2 separate regions of the Homo sapiens genome follow, and region 2 is linked to region 1. Evidence: fine-mapped expression QTL. A gene starts in region 1. The other region holds a variant in brackets. All regions are shown on one strand. Distances are from middle to middle. Region 1 holds the start of UBAP2L (ubiquitin associated protein 2 like). Region 2 overlaps UBAP2L (ubiquitin associated protein 2 like).

The links. PIP is the estimated chance that this variant, and not a neighbour inherited with it, causes the effect. A credible set is the group of variants that fine-mapping cannot tell apart.
Region 2: its variant is the best candidate, but not a certain one, in a credible set for the expression of UBAP2L in whole blood (TOPMed, PIP 0.59).

What each region holds. Positions count from the first base shown.
Region 1 is chr1:154,216,249-154,224,655 of GRCh38, reverse strand. UBAP2L (ubiquitin associated protein 2 like) reads right to left here and starts at 3,701. Exons shown (of 27, transcript NM_014847.4): 1 at 3,681-3,701. LTAP1 (lipid transport auxiliary protein 1) reads left to right here and starts at 4,066. Exons shown (of 7, transcript NM_001098616.3): 1 at 4,066-4,314; 2 at 4,719-4,820. The coding sequence starts at 4,249. RefSeq lists silencers at 3,528-3,677, 4,538-4,607 and enhancers at 3,198-3,945, 3,928-4,367, 3,946-4,693.
Region 2 is chr1:154,236,481-154,244,887 of GRCh38, reverse strand. UBAP2L (ubiquitin associated protein 2 like) reads right to left here. Exons shown (of 27, transcript NM_014847.4): 7 at 8,277-8,322; 8 at 7,752-7,864; 9 at 3,323-3,375; 10 at 1,586-1,671. Among named protein-coding and RNA genes, the nearest start is that of SNORA58B, 19 kb to the left of the region's middle. The variant A/T (reference allele first, on the strand shown) is at 3,273.

The DNA of each region.
Region 1 (8,407 bases):
ATTCAATCACCTAAGAAAACAGCCTTACCTGCCTTACAACCTTTTTTATGTAAGCTGCATGTGACCTCCATTGCTTGGGAAAGGACAAGTTCAAGTCTAGACTCTTCTTTGTCCCTCAAGTTTCATCTCTCTCAGTATGCTATGGGTTTGTTTTGTGTTTGTGGGGGTTTTTTGTTTTTTTAAACCACAGCCTTCAACAGGGTACGTATTAGCCCCAATGACTTTGTCCAGAATCTCTGTTCTCTGGAAAATAATTCCAACACACTGCTTTTACAGGTGCTTCTCTTGGTCTCCTAGTCCACATTTTCAAGAAACCAAAATGGCAATTACCCTCCACCACTCACCTTAATATACAGGGAATCTCAAATTTGTCTCAAACCAAAAGCATCTAGCACAAAGTTTTATTTGGAAGAAAGTGCTTCTAAGAAATCATTTTAAACTTGAGACCTTAATGCTGGCAAGATGACTTAGTTGAGTCTTTAAAGAGACACAGAACACACAGGGCCTTCCCCAAACCAGAATATAGTTTTTGTTACAAGACTTCTAACAAGGAAGGATTCTACTGAATTCAAGTTCCTTTAGTTCATACTTTGTTTTATAATACAATCTCAGCTGCTGCATTTAGTAAAAAAGAAAACATTAATCATATGATAGAGTGTTCAAAATAATAGGTTACTCTGCATTTATTCCCTTCCAAAGAGGGTAAGTTTATACTTTTCTGCTCTATATTTAATTTTTCTTGTTAATGAAACCTTATACAACGTAATTCTAGACTGCCCAGAGATATTACTGGATTTGAGTGGGAGGAAGGACTTCTAAAGAAATATGCAAGGATTAACTATTAGGGAAGTGAATTTCATCTGACTTTCTTGGATGTCACAGAGAAAGCTGACTTTTTCTGTGCATAAATTCTTCACCAAGTTGCGTCAATAGGTTGCATAGGTCTTTGTATCAAGAAAGATTTTTTTAAGGTAGCTTCTCAGGTAATTTTTAACCCATTACCTCTTCCCCCTACACATATTGGCACACAAAAGCCCATAAGTATTTCAAGCTAGAAAGGATTATTTGCTACACAGTAGCCCATTTTCCCAGGTTAGCATTATAGTCGTTTCAACTTTACAAAAAAAAAAAATGTTTAACCAAGTACCCCGAATCCAAATCAACAAGACTACATATACACATATATACGTATATATATAAAGACGAGAGGAAAACTATTTTGTTTTAAAATTGGCTCTAAGATGAAGTTTCTAATATGGCATAGTCATTTCCAACCCACTACTGTAACTTACAAATATTGACTGTTTTCTACTCCACATGTGATATCTATTTGTGAGGATAAGTTATATTGCAGGTATAAACTGCATGACTAGCTATACACTATTGCATATACTGTACCAGTCAGATGTAAACATATTAAAAAGTCATCTTGAAAGATATAATTAACCAAGAAAGAAAAAAATTCTCCTAATCACTCTTGCTAGTAACATTTCCCTCTTACAAGTGCTTCGAAATGTGACTAAGAAAATTTTTACCACCTAGTAGTGACAACACTGAGCAACAGGTCAAAAGTAAGTGATCTGGAATGGATCACTTGAGGGCACAGAATTAGTAGCAAGCAGACCCATTCCCAGCTATCACACTGGAGATGAAGAATCTTGTTACTTACTTGCTCTTTCTTAGAAAATAAAAAGATTTAAAGGAAGTAGGGTGAGAAGTATTGGAGACCAAGGAAATCGTGCGAGAGTAAACAGAGGTTTCAACACAGGAGTGCCCTTGACTCTTTTTTGAAAACTAGCTACTTAAAAAAATAGCCAGAGAAATTTCACTGAAAAAACTAAATAACAAATATTTATTGAGAATCTACTATGTGTCCAATACTTCAGGAAAATACAAAAGCAGTATGACTTAGTAGCTGCCCTCAGGGAGCTTACAATCTAATTTAAGAAACAATTCAGAAACTGAAGCTAGACTGAGTTGGGTAAAATTTGCTACCTCTAACAGAACAACTAATTTCTGTAGATGCTTTGTTGAAATGGCCCCTGCATCCCCTTCCCCACCACCTTGATATCTAGTTAGTAAGAGTACTTCCCAGTTAGGACATAGCAAGGAGGAGCTTTAAAGATGAAAAACAAAACAGGACATTTTTAGGCCTTTCATCACTAGTTTATGTGCCAGCAATATTTCCCATTCACAAAGGAAACAATCATTGAGATAGTCTAATCTTTAAGGACAATGGTGTCAGATCTCAAAGCAGTTTTATCAACTGATACACAGCCAAAATGTTTTAATTCTCTGTAATCATTGGGATAGTCTAATCTTTAAGTACAATGGAGACAGATCTCAAAGCAGTTTTATCAACTGATACACAGCCAAAATGTTTTAATTCTCTAGAAACGCTGGTTACTAGTAATGTCCATCACCTCCCAGCAAGTCACATCAGGTATCCCCAAAACAGGATATGCGGCGGAGGAAGGTAGGATGGGAGAGAAGACAAAAAAAAAGGATTTCTCCATTTAATAATCAGGGAGAGTCAAAGGCAAAAACGTTAACAATAATAACAAAAACGCCTGTTACTGTGGTGTTTTTCTTTCCACAACATCCTACACCAGAGGTGGCTACATTTCAAGAATGGTGGAAAAGGAGCAGTCTCCAGTTTGTGACATCAGTTTGCAAAGCAATTTAAGGGCTGTCCACAAGGTTAAGGGTTTGAAGAAACTGGGCATTCCTGTACCATTATGAGAAGAGTGAACAAATACCCCAGTGCTCTAGTGACGTCCCTTAAGCGTAAATACACCCTATGGGGGCCTCCATGTCCAGCTTCCCAAATAACACAATTGTTTGGGGTACCCAAACTACAGTATAAACAGGAAGCTAAAGACAGCAGCAAAAACATATTCCAAGAACTGGGTTGGTGAGAAAGAAGGGAGGGTAATAAGAGGAGCTGACAAAGAGCCTGGAAACGGAGAGGGGACGCAAGCCCACGGGTGGAGGATGGGAGGCTCACCCCCCTCAGCGCCACATCGAGAGCCCACGGGGCCAATCTCCTCCCTACCTCCCAGCCGGAACAAATTAATCCTTCGCACACCAAACTGAGGGCCACATGGGGGAGTTTGGGGGAGCTCCACCCCATCGCCCTCCCTCCCCCACGCCACCCCCAAACCAGGCCGGATCCGGATCAGAGGAGGCCCGCAGTGGGTGGAAAGGGAGGAGGCCCTCTCCTCCGCAGGCACCGGCCGGGGTGAAGAGAGAGCCCTACCTCAGGCAAGGCCCAGGCCTCGCTCGCTCGCGCTCTTTCTCGCTCTCCCCTCTCAGGCTCTAGCCGCATGGCCCCCCCTTCCTACGGCTGCTCCAAGCCCCGCCCCGGCCACGCTCCCAAATCGAGGCCCCGGCTCTGGCGCGGCCCACTAGGCCGCGAACCCAACCATAAACAAAACCTCCGGGGGCCGACTCGAGGTGGGGGGCGCCAGGGCTCGCATGACTCGGGGGGGGGTGTACAGTGGGGGAACACACGGTGTGGGGGGGCCTACCGAGGGAGGGGATACGGCGGGGGCAGGGGAGAAAAGAGGGAGGGTAAAAGGGGGATCGCGGATTTAAAGGGGCCGCGGACAATACCCGGCCCCGCCGCGCTGCCGCTGCCGCCGCCGCCGCCGCCAACGCCGCTGCGCTCCCAACTTTACCTCAGTCTCCTCCACACTGACACCCCGGGCCGCGCCGCCCCTGTCACGTGATATAAGATTCCCTCTTCCCCACCCCCTCCCTCCTTTTCCCTCTCGCGCTCGCTCTCGCGCCTTCCCCCGCCCACTTGCCTTCCTGCGTCCCTCAGCGCGTGACGCTAAAAGGGGCGCGCACGCAAGCGTGCGCGTGCCGCCTCGCCACGAGACACCTCTTTCCGGCTCCGCGAGTCCACCCCGCCTCCTTCACGGCGGCCCTGCCTCCACCACGTGACGCACGGATGGCCGCCGCTTCCTCTTACTGTCGTAGTTCCGCGTCTGAGCGCTCGACGCTCCTGGGTGCCATTGCCTGCCTGAGTCACGTGTCAGGGGGAAGCTGGAAGGCGTCGTTCTCCTTTCCCAGCTCTCCTGCCTGTCCGCCATGTTTTCAGGCCGGGTCTGGCTTGGTCTTCCCCCGTAAGGAAATGGCCGGGGAGCTCCAGGGGACCCAGGCGCCGTCGCTTCGGCGGAGCCTGGGCTGACCAGCCAGGACAGCGGGGTAAACCCGAACAATTCTGCGCGAGGTAGGGAGGCCATGGCGTCCGGCAGTAACTGGCTCTCCGGGGTGAATGTCGTGCTGGTGATGGCCTACGGGAGCCTGGTGAGGAGATTACCCCACCCCATTCCTGCTGTCGCATCTTACCCAGTAGAGACCCTCCTTTTGAGCTGTACCCCGTCTGCATTCTCCACCCACTCACCTGCGCCTATCCGGGCTTTGACTCCTTATTCCAGGAGTAGGTGGGAGTTTAAGTCACTTAGTCGGGCCGACCCGCCCTCGTTAGTCTAGAACCCTCCCTTTAACGCTAGAGCACAGACCCCACGCCTCCCTGCTGCTGGCTTCTTAGATCCACCCCCATCATAACGGCCTTGCTTTGCCCCAAGTTTTACCCTGAAACATTCCTGAGAGCCGGAATCTGGGGATTTGGAATGAAGGCATGCTTTTTTAAAAAAAAAACAAAACAAAACTGACTTTTTATTAAAGGATTTTTACATCTTTTTGGACAGGTGTTTGTACTGCTATTTATTTTTGTGAAGAGGCAAATCATGCGCTTTGCAATGAAATCTCGAAGGGGACCTCATGTCCCTGTGGGACACAATGCCCCCAAGGTAGGTCCTTAGGGCACAAGTTAAACATACTTCTCCAGATCTTTTAGGGTCAAGAATGAGATTTCCTCTGCCTTTAGTGATGACTTTAATTCTCATGTTTCTTTGCGTGCACTTGTCCTTGTACTTACTAAGTTGAGCAGGCACTGTGCGCTTTGGAACTTGGCTTACCTGCTCAGTGCTGTGGCAAGCATGTGGCTCATCCTGGAACTTCTGTTTTTGTATCTGCAGAATGAAGGGCTTGGGTCGAAGTTCCCAACTGTTTGTAGTAAAATATTTCCCAGCTCATCTTAAACTACCCAGTGTTTTTTGTTTGATTAGGATGGGGTTGAGATCATTAAGGTTAACCCAAGAGCAATGAGAAGGGTTACCTTTACATAATTTTAGACTTAAGAGGAGCTCCATAAATCATCTAATTCCACCATTCATGTTACCAAGAAGCCCAAGAAAAGGAGGCAGTTTACCAGAAGACGTATAGGAAGTGAATAACCCAGTGGTCTTTTATCTTTGTCTGTACTTTCTCCTTAGGTGACTGTCTTCCTTTCCTTGGCTTTAGCTACAGATGAAATTTTATCTCTATCCTAGAACTCTTTCCTGAGTTCCTTACATATATTGCCAACTGATTACCTGACATTTCCACTTAGATTTGTAGTAGACATCTCAAACCCAACATTTGTGAATCAGAATTATTGCTATCCCACTGCCACTCTCATTCTGCTTCTTTAGTCTTTCGCTTCTAAGTAAAAGACACCTGCTTCCCTTACCAACCCCCTTTTGTGTGGCTCTCCCCAGATCACTGGGACCCAGCTCCACTGGCTGAATTTTCCACCCTTTTTGCTCCTGTGATCTGGAATGGTCTTCAATTGGCTAGCTCATTCATTCTTTTGATCTTAGCTTAAATGTTACTTCCAAAAAAGGAATGCTTATTACCTATTTTAAAGTAGGTTCCCCCTCTCTTTATTTTCACATGGTACCCTGATTTTTCCTTCATAGCATTTACCATAATTTTTATGTTTGTCCATTTGTTTAAAACATGCCTCTCTCTTCCGCTAGACCGTAAGCTTCAAGAATGCAGGCACCATGCCAGTTTTGTTCACGACTATAAAGCCAGGACCTACACATAGTAGGTACTCAGTAATTTCTTGTTGAATGAAAAACAGGTTAGTGCCAGGGCCTACACATAGCAGGTACTCTGTAATTTGTTGCTGAATGAAAAACAGGTTAGTTGTAGAGCTAGAGCTCATGACTCCCTCAACTCCTAGAGCACTGTACTTTCATTAACAAGTGCTATTAACCTTCCCCTCTTTGTTCTTTGCTGACATAGTACATGAAAAGGCTCTAGGAGGATGTCCTGGCTTGAAACCTTAACAGTCCTGCCTGCCTCATGAGAAAGACATAGGGTTAGTTTCTAGCACATCATGAACCAATCAATACTTTGGCTATTCAGGGGTCCCTTGGTCTAGTTCAGAGCAATATTCCTTTTGCTTAAAAATTTTTTCTAAATTCTCAACCATTGCTAGTGAAAGTATAAATTAGTAAAACCACTTTGGAAAATAACTGGTCATTGTCTGGTAAGATTGCACATGTACCTAATCCATGGTCCAACAGTTTCTCTCCTACCATAGAGAAATTAAGTTTTGCTCATGTGTACCAAGAAACATGTGCAAGATTATTTATAGGGGCATTGTTCATAATATTTGAAGAAGAAACTTAATTCAAATGTCCACTTTTCAATTATTATATAGGCTGAGTGCAGTGGCTCATACCTGTAGTCCTAGCACTTTGGGAGGCTGAGGCCAGAAGATCATGTGAGCCCAGGAGTTACAGACTGCAGTGAGCTATGATTGCACTGATGCACTCCAGCATGGGCAAGAGCAAGACCTTGTTTCTAAAAAATAGGTAGTGGTATATTCATATTCTGGAATAGTGTAAAAAATGAAAAACTGAAGATAAATATATGAAGACAAGTCCTCAAAATACTTCTGAATGAAAAAAATTGCAAACATGAATCTCAAAAACATGCTGAGTGGGCCGGGCATGGTAGCTCATGCCGGTAATCCCAGCACTTAGGGAGGCCGAGTTGGGCAGATAACACTTGAGGTCAGGAGTTCGAGACCAGACCAGCCAACATGGTGAAACCCAATCTCTACTAAAAATACAAGAAAAAAATCCTAACTACTCGGGACGCTGAGGTAGGAGAATCCCTTGAACCCAGGTGGCAGAGGTTGTAGTAAGCTGAGATCAAACCACTGCACTCCAGCCTGGGTGACAGAGCGAGACTCTGTCTCACCAAAAACAAAAAAACCATGCTGAGTGAAGAAAGCCAAAATGCCGTTCACAAGAGAATATGTACCATGTGCTTCCACCCCATTTATATGAAATTCTAGAACAGGCAGAACTGTAAAAGAGTACATCATGTTGCCTGGGCTGGGAGAGGGGAGATTTCCAGGTGATGAAAATATTCTTTACTTTGATTGACGTGGTGGTGAAGGGGGTATGTTCATTTGTCAAACTCATCAATTTATATACATAAAATGAATGCATTTATTGTATGTAAATTCAACCTCAATAAAGTATATTTGAAAAATTTTGCTGGGTGCGGTGGCTAACGCCTGTAATCCCAGCACTTTGGGAGGCTGAGGCAGGTGGATCACCTGAGGTCAGGAGTTCAAGACCAGCCTGGCCAACACGGTGAAACCCCGACTGTACTAAAAATGCAAAAAAATTAGCTGGGCGTGGCGGTGTGTGCCTGTAATCCCAGCTACTCAGGAGGCTGAGGCAGGAGAATCACTTGAGCCCCGGCGGAGGTTGCAGTGAGCAGAGATCACACCATTGCACTCCAGCCTGGGTGACAGAGTGAGTCTCTGTATCAAAAAAAAAAAAAATTTAAGGCCAGGCGAGGTGGTTTACACCTGTAATCCTAGCACTTTGGGAGGCCGAGGCAGGCTGATCACGTCAGCTCAGGAGTTCGAGACCAGCGTAGGCAATATGGGGAAACCCTGTCTCTATAAAAAGTTTAAAAATGGGCCAGGCGCGGTGGTTCACGCCTGTAATCCCAGCACTTTGGGAGGCCCACATGAGAAGATCACAAGGTCAGGAGTTTGAGACCAGCCTGGCGAGCATGGTGAGACCCCATCTCTACGAAAAATACAAAAAATTAGCTGGGCATGGTGGCATGCGCCTGTAGTCCCAGCTACTTGGGAGGCTGAGGCAGGAGGGCAAGGAGAATTGCTTGAACCCAGCAGGCAGAGGTTGCAATGAGCCAAGATCATGCCACTGTACTCCAGTCTGGGTGACAGAGCAAGACTCCATCTCAAAAAAAAAAAATGTTTAATAATTAGCCATGCATGGTGGTGTGTGCCTGTAACCCCAGCTACTCAGGAGGCTAAGGCAGGAGGATCATCTGAGCTCAGGAGGTGGAGGTTATAGTGAGCTGAGATTGTGCCATTGCACTCCAGCCTGGGTGACAGAGTGTGACCCTGTCTCAAAAAAAAAAAATTTTTTTTTTAAACAAGTTGCAGAGGGATTCTTAAAGTATTTTTCCATTTGTATCAAGTTGAAAACCAGGCAAAGCTAAGCATCTTTTTTAG
Region 2 (8,407 bases), 20 kb before region 1:
CCAGGGGTGTAGGCGAGGTGGCTATTAAGTCCAATCACCAATGGCCAATGATTTAATCAATCATGCCTAGGTAATAAAACTCATAACAATAAGATTTGGAGAGCTTCAGGATACCTGCAGAGGACAAGGAGGTTGTGTGTGCCCCACCCACATACCCATTCATACCTTGCCCTACTCATTTCTTCCGTTTAGCTGTTGCTGAGTTGTACCTTTATAATAAACCAGTAATGGGCCAGGTGTGGTGGCTCACACCTGTAATCCCAGCACTTTGGGAGGCTGAGGTGGGTGGATCACCTGAGGTCAGGCTGGCCAACATGGTGAAACGCTGCCTCTACTAAAAATAAAAAATTAGCTGGGTATAGTGGTGCATGCCTGTAATCCCAGATACTAGGGAGGCTGAGGCAGAAGAATGGCTTGAACCCAGGAGAAGGTTGCAGTGAGCCAAGATCACGCCACTGCACTCCAGCCTGGGTGACAGAACAAGACTCCGTCTCGTCTCAAAAACAAAAACAAAAAAACAGTAACGGCAAGTAAAACTCCTGAGTTCAGTCATTCTAGTGAGTTATCAAACTTGAAAGGCGGTCATGGGAACCTCCAAATTTGTAGCTGGCTGGCAGAACCTCTGAAGTTGGGGCACTCTTGTAGAACTGAGCTTTCAACTTGTGGGGTCTGCATTAACTCTGGGTAGTTAACGTCAGAACTGAATTTTTGAGCTATCAGGCTCAGGTCTAGAAAAAATCCAAGAGGTTTCCAGCGAATTAAAAATATTCCCTGAAGAGTGTATCTCCTACCACTGATCCCTAGAGATTTAAATTCTAAAACGTTTATTAGCTGGATCCTGCTGATCCAAAGGAAAAAAACAACTGTTATACTCAGTGGGCTCAGAGAACAGGAGAATAAACTGCTGAACAGTTCTAAAAGATTCAGAAATAAATGAAAACATTTCCACTTTTGGCTCTTCTTTCCCTGACTTACTTCAAAACAAGTTATATACTCAATGCTGGTGATATGAAAGGCTGATCTTTGTAATTAAAGTGCTATTTGCAGGGAGAATCAACTTTAAAATTGTAACATATCAACTTCCATTCAGCAGATTAACTAGTACTAACTCTTAGAAGTCTCTCCATCAACTGGCGCGGTGGTTCATGCCTGTAATCCCAGCACTTCGGGAGGCAGAGGTGGGCGGATTACCCGAGGTCAGGAGTTCGAGACCAGCCTGGCCAACATGGTGAAACACCGTCTCTACTAAAAATACAAAAATTAGCCAGGCGTGGTGGCACACGCCTGTAATCCCAGCTACTCGGGAGACTGAGGCAGGAGAATTGCTTGAGCCCAGGAGGCAGAGGTTGCAGTGAGCCGAAATCGTGCCACTGCACTCCAGCCTGGCCGATACAGTGAGACTCTGTCTCAAAAACAAAAAAAAAAAGAAGTCTCTCCATCAACTTAAGAGGAATGTAATGATGTAATGTAATTTGGTTATTATTATTGACACCATGGGAGTTTACAAAGGCCAGTGCCACTTCTCTTTACAGTAATCTCAGCAGATGTGTTTAAGAAATGGTACTAAATTTTACTGCACACTTGCCTCTGACCAGCAGTGATTGTCACATTCTCCGCAGGCAGAGGCACTGAAGACACATTAGAGGCAGTGAAGATCTTGGTCTCAGAAAGCTGGAAAACAGAGGGATTAGTCACTCTTGGTGTCAGGGATGCTACAGTCAGAAACTTGGCATAGGTAAGGGGAATTCAACATCAAGAAAAAGTGAAAGCCCTATAAAGAGAAAACTATCTACCCTGAGGAATCCTGAATGGATTGACTTTCAAGCCCTTCAATATATGCTCAATAGTTTTAGCCAAAGAAAGAGTAGAAGCAAGGAACCCAATAAAATATAGTGGAGTCACATGATCATATGCATACTGAACTTACAGGCATGCTAGACATAAAAAAAAAAAAATAAAAGAAAGAAAATCCCTCTATATTTTCCCATTACAGTTCCCAACTCCCACCTCTTCCCAAACCACATTTGTCTTCTACTACTCCCTTCACAGCCCCACCCCTCCCAAAGAAAGATCATAACCAAGATGAAGAAATAAATAAAAGAAGTTCATTTTTAGCTTTTGAGCAGTAAGGGCCCAAGTGCTGCTGAATTAAGGTTTTTATGGGAGATCGTTTTAACTAGATGTTATTTTTGCCTTAATATTTGACTTTGTGACATCTAGTCCTTCCACTATTAAGGCATCAAACTTAGGTAAGCAAATGCAGGGATTAACTTTTCCTACTATTCAAAAGTTGATTTGGGTTTCAGTTTTATTTCTTGATTAAAATCGCTAAAGCACAGAAAATCCACTCTCCCCTCAATGCCCAACACCATTTATCATTCTCTGAAAGTTGCTTAAGCGGACAAGCCAAATCTCAGAAAGGAACATAATTTGCCCATTTTCACAAAGCAGTCTAGTTCATTGATTATACAATAGAAAATAATCACCCTGTGATGCTGATGCCTCTGAAATTTAAAAAACCCAGAATTGGCAACCAAAACAGTCTTCACATGTCATTTCCTCTTATCACAAAAGCTGTCTTGCCTAACTACATGAAAGTATAGAAAAGTACATAGATTAAAAATGTTAAAACAAGAGTTTATCCATGATCACTGAAAACCATAATTCACAGCAGAAGCTTGACTGTGACCAGGAATCAGCAAAATTCTTACTCAGGTAGTACTCAAATGAATTCACAGAGCTTGTTTACGTGCCACCCATCTATGAGGTTTCCAAGTTAAGTCAAGCTGGCAGATAGCCAATTCTACAGATATTCATCTCAATCACAATTATACAGTTGGGCTTCAAATAAATACAAGGGTTCCAGAGTCAACCAGATTACAAGTTTGAGGATTTGGTACCACAACACTCGCTTTGGATCCACTGCCAATCCATTACAGGACCTTATAGCAAATACTTAAATGCACCAAGTAGTCATGTACCACCAGCAGCTGTTACTCAATGCACTACCTGCCTAACTCCACTTCTGGTGCCCTACCCAACCACCAATCTCTTCCTGGGATAAATCCGACAATCAGATATTGGACTTACACAAGTGCACTTGCCCTTTCCATAGTGTGGTTCCACAGAGTCCTGTTCATGCCCAGTCTCCTTCATATAACATATGTGAAATGTTCTGGCTCAGAACACTATTTTGGATGTAAAAGTTTTGGGTCAGAATCTTAAGGGTGAATTTTGAGGGGTAGAAACATACCCATTTTCTATCCCTAAAC[A/T]ACACTTAGGGATAGAAGGCATTAGTGAGGAATGACCTGGGAATACCTACATCTTCATTCCAATCTTCAGTCCCCCACTCCTCTGTTGCAGTCCTCCATGCACCTGAGAATAAAGAAAAATAGTGAAGTAACTTCACTATTAAATGCCAGTACAAAGCATGTATAGAAAACATCAATGTATTAATTTTTTTGGCAGCCAAAAGTATGACTAAAATTTAGTAATCAGAAGGCCAGGTGTGGTGGCTCACACCTATAATCCTAATACTTTGAGAGGCCGAGGTGGGTGGATCACTTGAGGTCGGGAGTTCGAGACCAGCCTGACCAACATGGAGAAACCCTGTCTCTACTAAAAATACAAAATTAGCTGGGCGTGGTGGCACATGCCTGTAATCCCAGCTACGCGGGAGGCTGAGGCAGAAGAATGGCTTGAACCTGGGAGGTGGAGGTTGCAGTGAGCTGAGATCGCGGCATTGCACTCCAGCCTGGGCAACAAGAGTGAAACTGTCTCAAAACAAACAAAAACAAAAAACAAAACAAAAAAAAAGAAATTCTTGGGCTTCAAAGGTAAGGAAACACTCTTTAGAAAAGGATATCTCAGAGTACCAGGGTTTTAATAAGATTATGATTTCATAGCTACTTTCAGTTTTTGTTACAAAGCAGGAATGGGGGTGGGGGGGGGGACAGACAGACAACCACCCAATGCTCAAAGCAGTATCTTTAAGGTCCTCAGGTTGATTTAGTGGTCAATTCAGTGAAATGGCAGCAGCCAATTTAAACCATAACATGCAAACTACACCTATTTATCTAGTATAAGACAAAAAATACTGTAGGCAGTCTGAAGAAGGATAGTAGCACTGATAGAGAAACACAAATGGTTACCACATAATGGTTAGTGAAAGAGCAGTGAAGAAGGGTGGGTTTGAAACCCGAACTGAGGGCATTGAAAACTATCTGCTATGAGAATTAGATTAAAAATGCATACTCAGCAGAAGTCAAGTTTATAGATCTTATTGGTTTAACTGTATAAGAAAAGCCCCTATAGAGCTGTCCTCTTCAAAAGACAATGAACAAGACTGAAAAATCAGGTATGAATGATAGTTACTGTCCTAACCTTACTCATATAGAACTTGAAACCTGACCTGCTATGGTCATGGCACAGACAACGGGAGTATACACTGTCCTTGTGTTTGTTGGTAATACGGAAGCTGGGATACAGTTTCTACTGGAGAAATCCAAAAGCAATCAAACCACCTTCCACATTCCTTTTTTGTGCTTCATGTATACATATATTTTCAGAAAAAAAAAAATGTCCTTTCTTAAAAAATAAGGGTGAGAATTTCTAACAAGAACCAGGATTCTTCCCTTCAGCCAAAGGCACAGTAAAAACAAGAACCTGTCTGAAGAAGGGACAAGAGCACCCTTATTTTCTTGCTAGAATAATATATATTAAATAACTCTTCAATCCTTCCCTCCTACTGGAAAAAAGCTTATAAGAATGAAATGAAAAGTCTGACATTCAGATGCTGTGCCACTGAAGAGAAGTATTCTAACACCACATTAGAAGTATTCTAATACAAAGCCCATCTAAAATTCTTCTAAACATTTAATAATGCAAAAATCTTCTTTCTTAGAGGAAAATATATTCATTGTAAAGACTTTCCCAGGAAAATATTAAAATTGCACCAGGGAAATCCTAAACCACTTAATAATGACAATATTCTCAAAACCAAAGTCCAATCTCAGTACAGACAAGTTACAAACCACATTCTTTTCTCCTTCATTGATACCACACTTTCTTCTCATTGACATCCATCTTATCCTGGCTCGATGGAATCCAAGTTGCATTAGCACTTATACACAATCCTAGAGTTAGACATGATCTAACAGGTTATTTAATCTAGGCTCTTGATGCAAGAATTTTTTTCTGCACACTGATGACTTCAACTGGGATGGAAAGGAGGAACGTAGACACCTAACTGGTATGTTCCTATTCAGGATATACGGTCATGGCTGAGGAAGAGAGAGAGCTGAGGAAGCATTAAGGAACAGAATAGATGGAAATGCTCTAAACAACAGACTAGGGTTTCCATTCCATTAGCAGAAAGCAATCAGTGTAACTGTCAAATATTCATTAAATGAACAGAAAGGTAAGTGGACACAGAAAAATGAGAGAAAAAGGCAGAAAGAGAAAAAGCAGAAAGACATAAAAATGACATATCCACAGATATTTCAGCTCATAAAAATCTACAAAAATATCTGGGGCAGTTAGGCACCTGGATGTATCATACCAGGAGCAGTCTGGGGGATAATTTTGGGGGATAATTTGACCCCTCAACCCCAATGAAATCAAGTCCTGAAACAAAAAAAAAAGAAAAGAAAAGAAAAAACAACCAGTGAAATTTTGCTTGTAAATGAGAAAGTCTGCCCCAATACATAATCCCCATTGTACCTGTGGATATTTTAAAGGTAGGTTTGGATTTTTTTTTTAATTTAAAGGGGAAACTCAAGTTTGCTATCAGGAAAACACAAAAAGAAACCATGCATGAAGGTATGTTCATATCATGAAATTAACAACGACCAGGCGTGGTGGCTCACACCTGTAATCCCAGCACTTTGGGAGGCCAAGGCAGGTGGATCACTTGAGGTCAGGAGTTTGAGACCAGCCTGGCCAACATAGTGAAACCCCATCTCTACTAAAAATACAAAAATTAGCCAGGCGTGGTGGCGTGCACCTGTAGTCCCAGCTACTCAGGAGGCTGAGACATGAGAATAGCTTGAACTCAGGAGGCAGAGGCTGTAGTGAGCCAAGATCGCACCACTGCACTCCAGCCTGAGTGACAGAGCAAGACTCTGTCTCAAAAAAGAAAAAAAGAAAAGAAAAAAAAAATTAATGACAATGGGAATTCATGAAGCTATAACCAACACTTTTGCACTAACAAGACGATAGTGGCGTCACATTCAGCTACAAATCAGATTTCCAATTCCAGCCTTGCACATCTGCTCCCTTTTCTACTCAGTAGAAATTAACACACACACTACCTTTCGCTGTTTTTCCAACCAGATCCTTACTGAAGACAGCGAAGGCTAAGGACTGGGACCCCATGCCTGAATTTCTATTCACAACTAAAAACAAACTTTTCAACTTCTGCCATCTTACCTGCCAAAGATAAAAAGCCAAATACCCAGGAATAAGCTACAGCTCAAAAACAGTAACTTATTTGTTATTGAGACTGCTACCACTGCCTCTACAAAGCCATCAAGAGATGAATGAAGAACAGTTCTAATGCCTCCGAAGTATAGTAAGTTAAACTATAACAGGACATTTCGTAACTAAATGATGCAGAAATTCAAAGATACCTATCTTGTAACTCAACTTCAGCCTCCACCCATGAAATGTGTTAAAAATGAATTTATAAGATAGCAACTTGGCGAACAAAAAGCAGACGACATTCAGAGCCTCAGGAATAATATATTGTAGGAAAAAGGTGGAAAACTATTTGTGCCAAAGGCTCTCCTAAAGGCCCAGAGATCACGTATCTGTGAAAGGTGACAAGGCAAATTTAAACAGGTAAGGAGTCAAACATTTCAGGCCCTACTCATCCCCCTTTGTAAGAGGAAAAAAAGCCTTAGGCTCTCATGTGTTAGCTCAGCCAGAATGAGGCAGCTGTTCAAGAAAGCACTCCAGAGTTTTCTTACTAAAATGAACTGCTCTTATTGAAAGTGGCACACGTATCCACCCCCAAACACATCTTAGGTGTATACCACAGCTTAACATATCCTTAAACATTTATATCCAGCCCAGACGCAGGCACCAAAGTCAGTTAACAAAAAAGTAATCTTATTCAAACCCTGAATACTCCATCACACCAAGAAGGCTGTTCAACAGGGCACCAGAAAGGCTAGAGAGATTTCGAAATCTTCTTGTTCAGATACTGACATGTCCCAAAAATAAAGGGAAAAAAAGGATATTCTTATCTCAGTAACAGAAAACAAATAAATGGATAGTGTGGACTTTGATTCTAGGCCTTGTTCATCTTTACAAGCAGTGGCTTGATTAATTCTGGCTATCTTTTCAAAAGGCAACACTACCCTAACATAAACACTAGAAAATACACTTGGACCTAATAGCAGTGACATAGCATAGTTGAAAGGGCATGGACTTTCAGGGTCAAACAATGCTGAGTTCAAATACTAGCAAATTTATAACCTCTCTTTCGGCCTTAGTTTTGTCATCTGGAAAGTGATGATAAATAATGATTATTTCATACAATATCAAGCAGCATTAAGCGAAATAACATGTGTAATGTGCCCATATGCACGTTACATAAACAGTACACACAGTAATACAACTGCCAGCCCTTTCTCACCCTATCTCCATAACCAAACACTATTCTTCCACGTTTTAATGTAAGTATAATCAGAAAAAACTATTTCCTTAGATTCCCAGAGACAAGAAATGAATGATAAATGGTCACTCACTCGTCCCATCATCTGGTTCAAAGTGGCCAGTGTTGTTCCACGTATTGCCGCTGCTATTGCCATAGTTATCATCAGTATTGGCTGGCTCTGCATAATCAGCTGGGTTAAAGGTTCTGGAAAAAATAAAACTTAAGAGTCTCTGACCTCTAAGCAGCTTTGGCAAATATTAACTCAAAGAATCAAAATCTTGACTGCATCCTTCCTAGTACAAATCTGTCATGGCCCCATTCTATAATCCTGTGTGTCATCTACTTTTTCTCACTTATCACTCTACCCAAAATTTCATGGTATAATCTCAACATATATCTAAGATATTCTGAGAAAAGAACAGGTATATTGATTCAAATAAAGATATATAAAATATAGGTAATGATCCAGGTGGTAAAGGTTTATCCCTAAGAAATGAGCCCTAAGTCCCCATATCTTTCTGACCAGTCTAGAAATCATTCTGATCATTTTGGTTAAGGCTGCCTACAGTAATTTTTAAGGGAAAAAAAATTAAGACACTAGATCAATGAAACTTACCCCATTCCTTGAGCAGAAAACCTTCCTCCTCGCCTACCAGAGCCACCTAAAGAAAGAATGAGAAAAAGAGAAGAGAGATGTATTTTAGAAGTTGATATAAAACTTCCTTGCCAGGCAGGCACAGTGGCTCC